Homo sapiens: one gene and its partners. The protein of the gene in region 2 interacts with the protein of the main gene of each other region in a pairwise test. Each region holds a gene or a part of one and is shown on either strand. Other genes may lie near its edges.

The links. Proteins that work in one complex are often made in the same cells at the same time.
Region 1: the proteins of PRKAA2 (region 2) and GOLGA6A interact in binary tests that used the Homo sapiens proteins (3 or more experiments, as listed by UniProt).
Region 3: the proteins of PRKAA2 (region 2) and L3MBTL3 interact in binary tests that used the Homo sapiens proteins (3 or more experiments, as listed by UniProt).
Region 4: the proteins of PRKAA2 (region 2) and GOLGA2 interact in binary tests that used the Homo sapiens proteins (3 or more experiments, as listed by UniProt).

Annotation. Positions count from the first base shown.
Region 1 is NC_000015.10:74,072,551-74,076,050, reverse strand, and holds part of GOLGA6A (golgin subfamily A member 6A), read left to right. Parts: intron 1-65; coding exon 66-152; intron 153-260; coding exon 261-368; intron 369-560; coding exon 561-648; intron 649-1,049; coding exon 1,050-1,558; intron 1,559-1,834; coding exon 1,835-1,903; intron 1,904-3,233; coding exon 3,234-3,309; intron 3,310-3,500.
Region 2 is NC_000001.11:56,688,700-56,693,813, forward strand, and holds part of PRKAA2 (5'-AMP-activated protein kinase catalytic subunit alpha-2), read left to right. Parts: intron 1-2,694; coding exon 2,695-2,788; intron 2,789-3,658; coding exon 3,659-3,803; intron 3,804-5,065; coding exon 5,066-5,114. UniProt on the Homo sapiens protein: Catalytic subunit of AMP-activated protein kinase (AMPK), an energy sensor protein kinase that plays a key role in regulating cellular energy metabolism.
Region 3 is NC_000006.12:130,137,081-130,140,580, forward strand, and holds part of L3MBTL3 (lethal(3)malignant brain tumor-like protein 3), read left to right. Parts: intron 1-2,529; coding exon 2,530-2,673; 3' UTR 2,674-3,500. UniProt on the Homo sapiens protein: Is a negative regulator of Notch target genes expression, required for RBPJ-mediated transcriptional repression. It recruits KDM1A to Notch-responsive elements and promotes KDM1A-mediated H3K4me demethylation.
Region 4 is NC_000009.12:128,259,008-128,262,507, forward strand, and holds part of GOLGA2 (golgin subfamily A member 2), read right to left. Parts: intron 2,751-3,500; coding exon 2,661-2,750; intron 2,555-2,660; coding exon 2,447-2,554; intron 2,253-2,446; coding exon 2,165-2,252; intron 1,796-2,164; coding exon 1,458-1,795; intron 1,183-1,457; coding exon 1,069-1,182; intron 385-1,068; coding exon 160-384; intron 76-159; coding exon 1-75. UniProt on the Homo sapiens protein: Peripheral membrane component of the cis-Golgi stack that acts as a membrane skeleton that maintains the structure of the Golgi apparatus, and as a vesicle thether that facilitates vesicle fusion to the Golgi membrane.

The sequences.
Region 1 (3,500 bases), on a different chromosome or scaffold from region 2:
CTAGCCCTTTTAAGGGGCACTGCCTGAGCTCCCCAGATCAAAACTTCTCACTCTTCACCATCCAGTCCTCGAGCTGCAGAGAAGCGGTCCTCCAGCGGTGGTTACAGCAGACCATAAAGGAGCGGGCGCTGCTGAACGCACACGTGACACAGGTGAGGCTTTGCAGAGGGAGGGATGTGGAAGGAAGATGACCCCAGGTGGCCAGGAGCAGGTGAGGACCAGTGACAGCCCTTCCTAACTTCTGTGCCCATTTCTTGCAGGTGACAGAGTCACTAAAACAAGTCCAGCTAGAGCGAGACGAATATGCTAAACACATAAAAGGAGAGAGGGCCCGGTGGCAGGAGAGGATGTGGAAAATGTCGGTGGAGGTGAGGTCTGACCCTTCAGCCCCCACTTTAGATAGGTCACTGGATCTTTCTGGGCATCTGTAAAATGGGAATAGTACAGCCAGAGGTGGTCATGGGTCTGGGCTTTGTGGAGATGGGGACAGAGAATGAGATGGTAGCCTGTCCAGCCACCAGCCCCTCTCTCCAGGGCCCTTTCCCCTGTGCTTTGGGCAGGCTCGAACATTGAAGGAAGAGAAGAAGCGTGACATACATCGGATACAGGAGCTGGAGAGGAGCTTGTCCGAACTCAAAAACCAGATGGGTAAGATGGGGCTGGTGTGACCTCGGAGCAGGACTGGCATCAGAGGTCTGTGGGGGTGGCTTAGAATGCCCCAGGGAGGTGGGTGGGTGGAAGGGCTTTGAGGCAGAGGGAAAGAGGTCTGTGCCAGGAGACGGCAAGTTTTGTCATCTCCATGAGCCTCAGGGTCCCCATCAGCAAAGAGGGAGGAGTGCCCGTTGTCAGCCACCCACAGTGCTCTCTATGTGAAAGTGGCTTGGAAATTGGCTACCATTGGGTGCGAGGAATGATTAGCAGTGAGGCCAAGTTTGGGAAGCCTGAGAGGAGCTGTGCATCAAGAGGAGGTTTTTTTTTTTTTTTTGAGGGGGATGTGGGTAGAGGGGTTGGGGAATCCAGAGGCCCTTATTGTCTGCTTCATTTCTCAGCTGAGCCCCCATCCCTGGCGCCCCCAGCAGTGACCTCTGTGGTGGAACAGCTACAAGATGAGGCCAAACACCTGAGGCAGGAGGTGGAAGGTCTGGAGGGAAAGCTCCAGTCCCAGGTGGAAAACAATCAGGCCTTGAGTCTCCTTAGCAAGGAACAAAAGCAGAGACTCCAGGAGCAGGAGGAGATGCTCCGAGAGCAGGAGGCGCAGAGAGTGCGGGAGCAGGAGAGACTGTGTGAACAAAACGAGAGGCTTCGGGAGCAGCAGAAGACGCTACAGGAGCAGGGTGAGAGGCTGCGAAAGCAGGAGCAGAGGCTACGCAAACAGGAGGAGAGGCTGCGAAAGGAGGAGGAGAGGCTGCAAAAGCAGGAAAAGAGGCTGTGGGACCAGGAGGAGAGGCTGTGGAAGAAGGAGGAGAGGCTACAAAAGCAGGAGGAGAGGCTCGCGCTCTCCCAGAACCACAAGCTCGACAAGCAGCTGGCCGAGCCACAGTGCAGCTTCGAGGATCTGGTGGGTTGCCCCACCTGGGGAGCCTGCCCTCATCCCTATCCCTCCAGGCCTTTGTTTCCCCACCTGTAAAATGGGCCAGTGTAGCCCTCACATGAAATGCTACTTCTAAAGGCACCTGTGAGCTACAGCTCATCGGGCTCTGCTCTGATGGCTGTGGGGGAGAAGGGATGATTTTTCTAACCTGCCTCCACCCTTCCTGGTGATATGGGAGGCAGACACCAAGGTCTGGTGTCTCCAGCTGCAGTGGATGGCCACTGATTGCTTCTCTCTGTCCAGAACAACGAGAAAAAGAGCGCACTGCAGTTGGAGCAGCAAGTAAAGGAGCTGCAGGAGAAGCTAGACGAGGTGAAGGAGATGGTAACCTCCACCCCATCCAAGAAGGGCTGGGAGGCGGGCACCAGCCTCTGGGGAGGGGAGGTGCCAGGCCAAAGGCAGCTCCAGCTGGGAGGCAGGTGACCCCAGCACCCTCCAGTGCAGCTCTATGACTGTTTCTTGCTTCCTGCCCTCTGACTTTTAGAGGTGGGTAGCCCTGGGCTCCTCCCAGGTCTGGACATCATCATCCCAGCTAGAGACATGGAGCCCCCAATCACAGGGGAAGAGACAGTGGTACAAGAGGCTCCTTATCCAGGCACGGTGGCTCGCACCTGTAATCCCAGCACTTTGGGAGGCTGAGGCAGGAGAATCACTTGAGGTCAGGAGTTTGAGACCAGCCTGGCCAACGTGGCGAAACCTCACCCCTACTAAAATTACAACAACAACAACAAAAAATTAGCCAGGCATGGTGGCGCATGCCTGTAATCCCAGCTACTCAGGAGGCTGAGGCACGAGAATCGCTTGAGCCCACGTGGTGGAGGCTGCAGTGAGCTGAGATTGCACCACTGCACTCCAGCCTGGGCCACAGAGTGACACTGTCTCAAAACAAAACAAAAAAGCCTCCTTAGATTCAAACTGGATTCTGGCCTGGGTTCCACTGGTCACCATTCAACTACTGTTCATCTCTAAGTCTCTGTTTCTGTGACTTCAAAAGGAAGTTAGCATTTTCCTTGCAGAGGTGCTGAGGATTGAATGAGAGAATACCTGGAAAGCATTAGGCATGTAGCACACTTAGCAGATGGTGGTTGGCTCCCTCTGCTTTTCCACCAGTCTGTGGCCTACAGTTTAAATGGTGGGAAGAAGGACATGAGATTTGAGGCTGGGGAAGGAGGTATGGGGTTCTAGGCAAGGGAGGAAGCCTCTTAGGCCTGGAGCAAGGGACCAGGGTCCTGGGCAGGTGACAGAGCCCCACGGTGCCCTCGCTACCCTATTAATGGGCCCAGAATCTGGAAGCCAGCCGCCATGTGCCCTCATGCCCAGGGTCTTCCTGCAGGTGGAGCTGAAGAGCCAAGAGTCTCAGAGTCTGCAGCAGCAGCGAGACTAGTACCTGGGTCACCTGCAGCAGTACATGGCCACCTATCAGCAGCTGACCTCTGAGAAGGAGGCGCTGCACAGGCAGTTACTGCTGCAGACCCAGTTCGTGGACCAGCTGCAGCAGCAGGAAGCTTGGGGCAAAGCGGTGGCTGAGATGGCCGGACAAAAGTTGCAGGAGACCCAGGGGAGGGAGTTGCTGAGGACGGGGCCCCGAGGGGGATGACCTGGCAACCTCCGTGCCTTCTCACTCTGTTTCCCGTCCCCTTAGGAGCACCTAGAAGCTGCCAGCCACCAGAACCAACAGCTAGAGACCCAGCTAAGCCTCGTGGCTCTCCCTGGAGAAGGTACAGGAGACCACTCAGAGGAAGAGGAGAGAGCCCCAGGAGGAAGGGGGGACTGTTAGCAGCATAGGATTGAGGGGTTGGAAGAGACCTTTAGAACAGCTGGTCGTTATGCCAACCGGGTGTCCGCACTAAGTTCAGCATCAATATGGTGACCTCCTGGGAGCAGGGGGCCACCAGGTTGCCTAAGGATG
Region 2 (5,114 bases):
GGCAAGGGCCTGATTTATTCAGGACCTAAGAGCAATGGGAAACCTTTGAAGATTCTAAATTGAGAGGCTACTGGAGATCATATTTGTGTTTGAAGAGAATCTTTATTTAATGTCTGTCTTTCTGGCTAAACTGTAAGCTCCACGAGTAGAGGCACCAACTTTTGATCTCACCGAGTACAATACAAGTAGGTACTCAATAAATGTTGTGTCACCATTTAATAGCTTAGTGCCTGGCAGACAGTAAGTGCTTAGTAACGTTATGATTTTCATTGCTCTAGACTGGCCTTTAGTGTAAGACAGTGGCTGCTAAGGATTTAGAGGTTTCATGAAATAATTAATTCCAAGAATATCTGTTGAAGACCTGTGATATACTCAGAAATGGCAGCTAAATTTATTTATTAGAATGTCATCACTTCTTTTCTTTTGTGCCCCATCTAGGATGTACAGAGCACAAAAGTGATTGAAAATTGTTACTAAATCAGACCAACCTACAGTGAGGTGCTACAGCAGATGCACCTGCCCTACAGTATTCAGTTTACGTGATCACTTTGGTGCTTGTAAAGATAGCTTTTATAAAACTATTTCTTCTAGAGTTCTCAGTATAATTACCTTTCCAAAGTTCATTTGAAATAGTCTCAATTCTTCTTCAGTCATATTCGTTTATTTTATATAAATTAGAATACCTTGCCATGTTTCTTCCCAAAGACTAATGATTGCCATTCAAAATATTTCTTCTGGCCAGGCTTGGTGGCTCATGCCTGTAATCCCAGCATTTTGGGAGGCCAAGGCGGGCAGATCACTTGAGGTCAGGAGTTCGAGACCAGCCTGGCCAACATGGTGAAACCCCCCTCTCTACTAAAAATACAAAAATTAGCCGGGCATGGTGGTGCATGCCTGTAGTCCCAGCTACTCGGGAGGTTGAGGCAGGAGAATTTCTTGAACCCAGGAGGTGGGGTGCGCAGTGAGCCGAGAGCATGGCCGCTGCACTCCAGCCTGAGTGGCAGAGCAAGACTCTGTCTCAAACAAAAGAAAAAAAGTAACTAATTTTAACGTCTCCAAAACTTGGTTTGGTAAAATTGTGTATAGGGGTGTAAGTTGTAGTTTTTGGGAAAAAAATTTATTTTATCAAATAAAGCTAATTTTTTTTCTTAGTTTTTAATGTGCCCAGCTTTGGATGCCTAGAAACACAGACACACAGACACACACACACACACACACACACACACACACACACACACTCTTAATTTTTCATGATGGGAATTGTTTAACATTTACAAAAGTAACGCGGTGAAACCCCATGCATGTCTTATTCACCTTCAACAGTAGTCAATTCATTGTTTTATCTACGCCAGATTATTTTGAAGCAAATCTCAACATTATCTTTTTAATCTGTAAACTCTTCAGTATCTACTCTAGAAAATACTTTTTTAAACTCTAAATAACATAAGCATAGTATCATCACATCTTTTTTTTTTTTTTTTTGAAGCGGAGTCTCGCTCTGTTGCCCATGCTGGAGTGCAGTGGCACGATCTTGGCTCACCGCAAGCTCTGCCTCCCGGGTTCACGCCATTCTCCTGCCTCAGCCTCCCGAGTAGCTGGGACTACAGGTGCCCGCCACCATGCCCAGCTAATTTTTTGTATTTTTAGTAGAGACGGGGTTTCACCGTGTTTGGTTTAGCCAGGATGGTCTCAATCTCCTGACCTTGTGATCTGTCCGCCTCGGCCTCCCAAAGTGCTGGGATTACAGGCGTGAGCCACCACGCCCGGCCTATCACATCTTAATTAAAATAATTAACAACATTATCCACCACTAATCAGCATGTAGACTTTCCTGATTGTTTCATAAATGGTTTTTAAAGTTGGTTTATTTGAATCAGAATCAAAATAAGTCTATACAGCATAATTGGTCAATATGTCTCTTAAGTTACTTTTAACGTATAGTTTATCCTTTCCCTTTTTTTCTTGCATTTTATTTGTTGAGGAAATGGTCATTTTTCACTTCCTGGATTTTGCTGAATGTATCCCTGTAGTATCATGTTACGTGTCCAGGAAAATATATGTATGTTTTACAGAAATGAGGTCTTGCTATGTTGCCCAGGCTGGTAAAATACTGACTTTAGAAGATATATTCCACTTAATTGCCAACATGAAGCCTATGCTTTTCAAAATCGGTTCCATAAAATCATGTTGAAGATCAGTTATTTTCTTTTCTTAGCACTTTCATGTATGTTCTGTTTTAGTTTGTTTTGCTGTCAATTCCCCAAAACATTGCCCTGAGCTCAAGTGATTCTCCCACCTTGGCCTTCCAAAGTGCTGGGATTACAGGCATGAGCCATAGTGTCTGGCCCAAGTATATTTTCTGTTTATCTTTAAATATGTGATACCTCATCTCCTTTTACTGTAAACAAATTTTTGTTTATATGGAAAAATTAGTTGTTGAAGAGGGAAAGATTTCAAAAATTATGTAAACTTGAAAGGGAGGATCTAAAGGAACGGCCGTGAGCCTCAAGAAATAGAATAATTTTGTAATGGTCCGTGTTTATTGCTCTGTGATTATTTTGATAACATGTAATTTGTTGCCATCTTAAAGTATTATAAAACATTGAAATATAAAATTGTAGCAAGAGTAGATATACCAGTTTGATTTTGGTTAAAGTAACATACTTTGTTAACTTTTTTTAATTAACAAAAAAGATACCAGGTGATCAGCACTCCAACAGATTTTTTTATGGTAATGGAATATGTGTCTGGAGGTGAATTATTTGACTACATCTGTAAGCATGGACGGGTGAGTAACATACTATCTGGTACACTAAATCTCTAAACTAATAAAAAGGAAAGTATTGGGACATAGAACAATGCAAAGATATCTTCAAGGTTGAAGTTGCTTTTATGGTAGTGCTCAACTAAACATGTAGAGTGTTAGATAAATTTTCTTTCTTAAAAAGCATTCCTTTTGAAATACTGATTTTAGAAAATATGTTTCACTTAATTGCCAACATGATGCGTATGCTTTTTAAAATCTGTTCCATAAAATCATGTTGAAGATCAGTTATTTCCTTTTCTTAGCACTTTCACATATGTTCTGTTTTAGTTTGTTTTACTGTCAATTCCCCAAAACATTGTGCACATTTAATAATATTAATTGAAATTTAAATATTTCTGCTTAGCGACAAAGACAAACTTGTCTTTTGACATGTTGAGCTTTGACAAGCTTTTGGTTGGTTTATTTTGTCTGATTTGTTGAGAATTCCAACATAATTCTAGCTTGCTTAATTATATTTAGCCTAATTATGAAATTAAAACTCTTGTCAAATAGATGTCTCAGATTTTTTTTTTTTTTTTTTTTTTGAGACAGACTCTTGCTCTGTTGCCCAGGCTGGAGCGCAGTGGCATGATCTCAGCTCACTGCAACCTCTGCCTCCTGGTACAAGCAATTCTCGTGTCCCACTCTCCTGAGTAGCTGGAACTACAGGTGCATGTCACCATGCCCGGCTAATTTTTGTATTTTTAGTAGAGATGGAGTTTCACCTTATTGGTCAGGCTGGTCTCAAACTCCTGACCTCAGGTAATCCACCTGCCTTGGCTGGGATTACAGGCATGAGCCACTGTGCCCAGCCCCAGATATTCTTAATGCAGTTTCTTTTGTGCTTGATAGGTTGAAGAGATGGAAGCCAGGCGGCTCTTTCAGCAGATTCTGTCTGCTGTGGATTACTGTCATAGGCATATGGTTGTTCATCGAGACCTGAAACCAGAGAATGTCCTGTTGGATGCACACATGAATGCCAAGATAGCCGATTTCGGTATGTAACTCCAGGGTTGTTCAGAAAGGTACTAGCTACCTTTTAAAGCATAACAACTCATTGAACTAAGAACTTTACTTTTCAACCTTGTACGTTCTGTACCATGAAAAGGAATTAGCTGAAATCTCCTCAGTAGCTTTTTTTTTTCATTTAATTAAATTTTCATTAATTTTCATTAAATACACTTTAAAAATGCAGATACCTCTAGAGAAGTTAGAAGGTTGTCATCAAGATAAATCCATTCAATCTGCATTTTCTCCTAAGGAAATGATGCATAACTGTTTTTTTGTTTTTTTTTTTTTTGAAGAGAGGGGAGGAGTCCCAGACTTCTTTGAAAATCTCATGAAAGTATGGGCACTTTCCCTGATGAATGCATATAAACCAAGGTACCTGAAAATATGCATGCAGTTGGAAAAAAGCCCTTCTGAACTGATCCACAAAGAGGTCCTTAGGTGTAACGTCTAATAACTTGATTAGAGAACAGTTTTTGTCAGGGGTAAAAGGTACATAAAATGTGATTTTTATACTCCAAACACTTTCTGGGATAAACATACGTGGAAAGGATGCCTTAATAGGGTATTTGAGAAAAAGACTAGGAAGTGAGAGATTAAAGAGAAAGAGATAGAAAGGTACAGGCTATTGTTGCCTATTTGTGGTCTATACCTTGTCTTTAATCTAAAAACCTAGAAACTACTTTCTCTATTTCTCTTCCTTCTCTAAATCATGAAACTTATTTATTACTATAGCTCAGCTAGATTTTTGGTTCAATAGATTATTTTTTCCATGTTGAATTAAATATTTCTAAATTAAAAACTTTTGGAACATAATCTCTTTATGAGGTGGGGCCCATCTGGTTTCTAATTACAGAATTTAAAGAGGCTTTTGAAAGCACAGGGCAAAAAAGTAGTAGTCTCTATTTTATTCTTTCAACTATGGAAATAGGTAAATAATATTTTGATGTTTTCATGTTTGGGAAAGTTAATATGCTTCAGAATAACCTCATTTGTGATGGGAATCAACATTTTTATTTAGAAAGGAAATTTAGTTTCACTCATATATGTGATGTGCTTTAGCTTTTTGTTACAGTGTAAGCACTCTGAGACGGTCTCTTTCCAGTTAAATGCTTTCCACTGCTTTTTTTTAATAACTTAAAAAAAAATGATATATGGAGGATCCAGGACTTGAAATTTTGCTCATATTTATATGACTTTATCTACTTTTAAAAATATCTAGCACCAAGTAAACATTACTTTTATTTTTAGGATTATCTAATATGATGTCAGATGGTGAATTTCTGAGAACTAGTTGCGG
Region 3 (3,500 bases), on a different chromosome or scaffold from region 2:
GTTTGGAATATAATAGACATTCAGTATATTTTTGTTGAGTGAATACATTCATGCCTTTACACTCTGAGAAAGACTCACTCAGACAGAGCATGTCACTGTGGTTTCGAGTTAAGGCATTGGAAAAGAACAAATAGTGAATAGTGGAAAGGGCAGTGAAATGGAAGGCCAGAGCTCCTGAATTCCAAATCCCTCTCCTTTGTTTTAGGCCATTAGCAAGACACCTAATGTCTGGAATAATGGCATTGTATATGCATTGCAGAAGCTAACCGAAAAAAAAGTAAGCCTTGTAATACATTGCAGTGGTCACTGTTGTTCTTAGGATGTACTTTCCTGAATTAAGTTGACTTCCTTCCAATCAAGACTTGTTTGTATGGCCACATGTCAGAGCAACCTGTATGTAATAAAGAGTTTGGAAGTAGCCTCAAGATTTTTTTTCTTTCTAGTGTATGTAACCTTATAAATAACAACCTACCAAAATGTATCCTTACTGTCCCACTTTTAACTTCAAATCCCAGCCACTAAGTTCTCTGGATGTTTTTTTTTTTCATCAGTTACCTGTTGTGTTATACTCTTACATAGTTTCAGAAGGAGACTTGCTGTCTGCGCCAGGCCTTCAGTAGGGCCAAGGTTGTAATAAACCAGTCAGCCTTTGTAGTGGGCTCCTTGGGAATGTCAGTTGACATTTTCATTAATGACTTAGAAGACTTCTATAAGGCTGTCCATTGTACTAAGGTCTGCCTTGGTTGAGCGAAGTGTTAATAGATCTGCCTTTCTTCCTGACCTTGCTTTATCAGAGGACTGTCATAGCACAAGCAAATGAGAACAGACCAATGTTTCCAGAAAACAGGAGAACATTTCTCATACCTGCCGCTTAACGGTGCTACACTTGGAGATTAACACTGGAACGTCTTTCCTTCTAGTTTACAACAGCAGGATGTCTTTTTACTGAAATTAGCACACTTTTTCCACATAATTGTTACTTGAAGAAGTTGTGTAAGATGACTCCAGTTCTTACTGATGAAGCATTTAGGCAGTCTATATTTACAGGTCTTTCATTTTTAAAGGAGAGAGGAAAATCTTAAGAAGTAGCAATTTAATTATATCAGCCTTGTTTAGAGAACTGTTTGCAGAATTTAGAGTTGTCTTAGTTTGCTAGGGCCACCATAACAATGCCAACCACAAACGGGTGGCTTAAATGGCAGAAATGCATCGTCTCACAGTTCTAGAAGCTGAGAATCTGAAGAAGGCTAGAAGTCAGGGGGTTGGCAGGGTTGCTTCCTCCCGAGGGCTGTGAGGAAAGAATCTGTCCTGGGCCTCTCTCCTTGACTTGTAGATGTGACTTGTAGATGGTGGTCTCTCTTTGGGTCTTTACGTTGCCTTCCCTCTATATGTGTCTCTTTCTCCAGATCTCTCCTTTTTATGAGGATACCAGTCATAATTGGATTAGGCACCCACCCTACTCCAGTGTGACCTCATCTTAACCAGTTACCTCTGCACTGACCCTATTTCCAAATAAAAGTCACATTCTGAGGTACTGGGAGTCAGGACATCAATATACGAATTTTTGTGACAGGGACACCATTCAACCCATAACGGAGTGCGTTGCTGTCAAGGTTTCTGATGTTCTAAGGCAGAGAACAAAAGTGTGTTTTACTTTTTGTACAAGGTGGGAAAACTGAAAGGGAAACTTTTTTTTTTTAAGGTGATAGAAGAGCTGAAAGTCATAATGAAAGACTGTTTCTTTGCTCTGCCCAGTAAGCCAGACATCATTTTCATAGTATTTTATCTTTTAACCTAAAAGATGTGTTGTACCTTTGAACTTCTAGAGAATAGTAGCCTATTTTTCAGAAGCATAGACTTTTGTCTTAGAAGATGTCCAGAGAGAGGAAGGGTCTTTCTCATAGTTACCCTACCTGCGTATTAGAAGAACCACCTTAAAGTCAGTGACTCGTAACACCAGCCTCACATTCACTGTTTGATTGCCCCGTTAGTAAATGCTTTTCTTCTGTGTGTAAAGACTTAACTGTGGCCACACTAGAGATAAGTGTTATCTTTCTGATTTTCTTTTCTTCATGGTGGAAGGCTAATTCTGGAAAAAAAAAAAATGTTGCATGTAGCTGATATGTTTGCCTGAGTTATTTTATGTCCACAAACATTCATGTACCTGTTATCTCTTCTAATTTTAAAACCTGCCATGATAAAAACTAGACTTTGGGCATCCTGGATTTTTCCATATTCTTCTTAACTCTACAACTAATTCAGAGTAATCACAGGAAGATATGGGCACCTTCTGTTTTCCTTTGGCTGGTTTTTCAGGTGAATTAGTTTACTTTGTTCCCAGTCCACTTTGGGATGTGTCATTGTGGATAAGAAAGGTCCATATATCAAGAAATGTCATTGCACACGTGAACTTCTCTGTGCTTTTTTAGCATTGCTATGTAGAAGACAGCTGGTAATTTAACCTTGAATATTTTCTACAACACTGCATCTTGTTAATCCACATTCTGTTGTTTTTTTCCCCCATTTTAGCAAATTGATGGAGAAGCATTTCTACTTATGACTCAAACAGACATTGTTAAAATTATGAGCATTAAACTGGGCCCTGCTCTCAAAATTTTCAATTCCATCCTGATGTTCAAAGCTGCAGAGAAGAATTCTCACAATGAACTTTGAAGATGGTGAATTCTGAATACCATCAGCATTCTGCTTTAAAGCTCATGTTTTATTCAAAGCACAAGGACGGTTATAACTCCTAAGTGAGAAGTCTCCAAAACTCAAAAGAGCAACACTATCGGATTATTTATATTACTCAAGAGACAATATATATGAATTCTTATGAAAGTGCTTGAGCTTTTAACCAGGTACTGTCTAACAACAGTCATCTTTTGGTTCTGTTCACTGAGCTAAATTTATCTTTGTAAATCTTTTTGAGTCTGGGGGGTGGGGGGAAGGGGGGCTTCATTAATTATTTATGGTAATGGGGGGCAGAGTAAGAACTTTTGGCATTTTGTAAACATTGTTGAATTCTCTTTCATGTACACTGTTTCTTTTTCAATACTTTCAGAAACCTTTTTATATAATCAAATTTCAATTTAAACCAAATTAGTCGAAACCTGGCTAAGTTTAGCCAGTAGGACTGTTATCTGTATTGTTAATTTTGTGCCATATTTTGAATTGCAACATTATGCTAAGTATAACTTTGCAAGTCATGATATTGCCTAACTGCTTGTCATAATTGTCAGGGCTGAATAGTTGTAAGAATGACTTTTCTTTGAATCAGTATTTTTCCTTTTGCACGCATTATGAAATGTTAAACAAATTACTTTTCACCAGCATCTTTACTATAATTACCAAAAACATGTATATAAAAGAATGAAATTGAAAAATAAAATATATAAACATAAATAAATTAGGTAGTGTATTTTGAGTGGCATCAGTCTCACTCATCTTGGTGCCCCGGTGTTTACAAGAGCCAGATGGTGTCAGAGGAGTACGCAGTT
Region 4 (3,500 bases), on a different chromosome or scaffold from region 2:
TTCCCCAGGGTGAGCCATGAGGCTCAACTGGGCCCGTAGCTGCTGATTCTGCTGGGTGGCAGCTTCCAGGCGCTCCTAAGGGGCCAGAAAAGAGAGTGAGAAGGCATGGAGGTTGCCAGGTTGTCCCCCTCGGGGCCCTGCCCTCACCAACTCCCTCACCTGGGTTTCCTGCAACTCTTGGCGGGCCATCTCGGCCACCGCTTTGCCCTGAGCTTCCTGCTGCTGCAGCTGGTCCACGAGCTGGGTCTGCAGCAGTAGCTGATTATGCAGCACCTCCTTCTCAGAGGTCAGCTGCTGATAGGCGGCCACATACTGCTGCAGGTGTCCCAGGTACTGGTCTCGCTGCTGCTGCAGACTTTGAGCCTCTTGGCTCTTCAGCTCCACCTGTAGGAAGACCCTGGGCGTGAGGGCAGGTGGTGGCCTGCTTCCAGATTCAGGGCCCATAAATAGGGTAGCGAGGGCTCTGTCACCTGCCCAGACCTCTGGCCCCTTGCTCCAGGCCTAAGTGACTGCCTCCCTTGTCTAGAGCCTCGTGCCTCCTTCCCCAGCCTCAAATTTCACATCCTTCTTCCCACCATTTAAACCGTAGGCCACAGACTGGTGGAAACGCAGAGGGAGCCAACCACCATCTGCTAAGTGTGCTACATGCCTAATGCTTTCCACGTATTATCTCATTGAATCCTCAGCACCTCTGCAAGGAAGATGCTAACTTCCTTTTTAAGTTAAAGAAACTGGGGCTTAGAGATGCAAAGTAGTTGAATGATGACCAGTGGAGCAAAGGCCAGAATCCAGTTTGAATCTAAGGAGCCTCTTATGCCGCTGTCTCTTCCCCTGTGATTGGGAGAAATCCATGCCTCTAGCTGGGACGATGATGTCCAGACCTGAGAGGAGCCCAAAGCTATCCACCTCTAAAAGTCAGAGGGCAGGGAGCAAGAAACAGTCACAGGACTGCCCTGGAGGGTGCTGGGGTCACCTGTGCCCCAGGCTGGAGCTGCCTCTGGCCTCACACCACCCCTCCCCAGAGGCTGGTGCCCGCCTCCCAGCCCTTCTTGGATGGGGCGGGGTTACCGTTTCCTTCAGCTCGCTCAGCTTCTCCTGCAGCTCGCCCAGCTTCTTTCCCAGCTCCCTCTTGACGTGCTGCTCCGACTGCAGTGCGCTGGTGATCTCCATGTTCTCATTAGTCTGGACAGAGAGAAGCAATCAGCGGCCACCCACTGCAGCTGGAGACCCCAGAACTTGCTGCCTTGGTGTCTGCCTCCCATGGCACCGGGAAGGGTGGAGGCAGGTTAGAAAAATCATCCCCTCTCCCCCACAGCCATCGGAGCAGGGCTCTGGCTCACAGATGCCTCCAGAAGTACCATTTCAAGTGAGGGCTACACTGCCCCACTTTACAGGTGGGAAAACAAAGGTCTGGAGGGCTAGGGAGGAGGGCGGGCTCTCCAGGTGGGGCAGCGCACCAGCTTTACAAATCCGCTCTGCAGCTCAGCCAGCTGCTCCTTGAGCTCCCGGTTCTGGGAGAGTGCGCGGCTGATGGTAGTGCGGTCGTTCTGCATGGTCTCCAGGATTTGCCTGCGCGCCTCCGCCTGCTCCCCCCAGAGCTCGGCCGCCCGCTCCAGCTCCAGCAGCCTCTCCTCCTGCTCCCGGTTCAGGCGACTCAAGCCCTCATTGTCTTGCACCTGGGCTTGAAGCTGTCCTGCCAGACCCTCCAGCTCCTTCCGCAGGTGCTCAGCCTCCGCTTGTAGCTGCTGCTCCACCTCGGAGGGCCCTGCTGGGGGCTCTGGGGGCGGGGGTTCAGCTGAGAAAGGACGCAGACAATAAAAGCCTCTGGATTCTCAAAAAAACCCTCCTCTTGGTCCATACCTCCTCTCAAGCTCCCCAAACTTGGCCTCCCTGCTGATGATTCCTCGCACCCGGATGTTAGCCAATCTTCCAAACCACTTTCCGATAGCGACAACTGTGGGTGGCTGACAACGGGCACTCCTTCGTCTTTGCTGATGGGGCACTGAGGCTCATGGAGATGACGAGACTTGCCATCTCCTGGCACAGACCTCTTTCCCTCTGCCTCAAAGCCATTCCATCCACCCAACTCCCTGGGGCATTCTAAACCACCCCCACAACCCTCTGACACCATTCCTGCTCCCAGGTCACCCCAGCCCCAGCTTACCCATCTGGTTCCTCAGTTCAGCCAAGCTCGTCTCCAGCTCCTGTACCCGACTCATGCTACATTCCTTCTCCTCTCTCAATGTGTGCACCTGCCCAAAGCACAGCAAGAAAGGGCCCTGGAGAGGGGCTGGTGGCTGGACAGGCTACCATCTCCCTCTGCCCCCACCGCCACAAAGCCCAGACCCATGACCACCTCTGGCTGTGCTCCTCCCATTTCGCAGATGCCCAGAAAGATCAAGTGACCTATCTAAGGTTGAGGGGGAGCTGAAGGGTCAGGTCTCACCTGCTCTGACATCTGCTGCATCCTCTGCCGCCACATGGCGCTCTCTCCTTTGAGATTCTCCGCATATTTATCTCTCTCCATTTGTAGTTGTCTAACCGACTCCATTACCTGCAAGAATGGCCACAGAAATGAGGAAGGACTGTCACTGGTTGTCACCTACTCCTGGCCACCTGGGGTCATCTTCCTTCTACATCCCTCCCCTGCAAAGCCTCACCTGCCCCAGGTGTGCTTCCAGCTGTGCCCGCTCCTCCATGGCCTGCTGTAACTGCTGGTTAGCATCAGGGGCTTCACACCGGCTTGAAAACTGGATGGTGAAGAGCGAGAAGTTTAGATCTGGGGAGCCCAGGCCGTTCCAAATAGTGCCCCTTAAAAGGGCTAGGGCTAGGCTCAATGTGCAACTCAGTCAATACAACTCTGCTGTCAAGTTTCTTTGCTTTAGAAATAAAAAATAATTTTAAAAAGATCTCAGGCCAGGCATGGTGGCTGATGCCTGTAATCTCAACACTTTGGGAGGCTGAGGTGGGTGGATTGCTTGAGCTCAGGAGTTCAAGACCAACCTCGGCAACATGGCAAAGCCCCGTATCTACAAATACAAAAATTAGCCAGGCATGGTAGTGTGCGCCTGTAGTCCCAACTACTTGAGAAGCTGAGGCAGGAGGATGGCTTGAGCCTGGGAAGTAGAGGTTGCAGTAAGTATCACTCCAGCCTGGGTGATAGAGCGAGACCCCGTCTAAAAAAAAAAAAAAAAAGATCTCTACTCTCTATTATTAGTGAAAGTGTTGGCTTGAACCTCAGAAGGAAATAAACAGACTCATGAGCTAGCCATATAAATGTAATCTCTAAAATAATGGTTTTCACCCATGATGCTTTAAAACAAAACAAAACAAAACAAAACAAAAATTGTCTTAAGCCCTAACCCTAAGATTCTGATTCCCCAGGTCCCCAATTTGTAGATTTTTAGCACTCTCTAGAGGATTTTATGCCAGGACCGGAACAAGGACCCAAATTTTCCAGCTCTTGGCTGGAGTCTCCCCATGCCCTGCATGATCCCTAG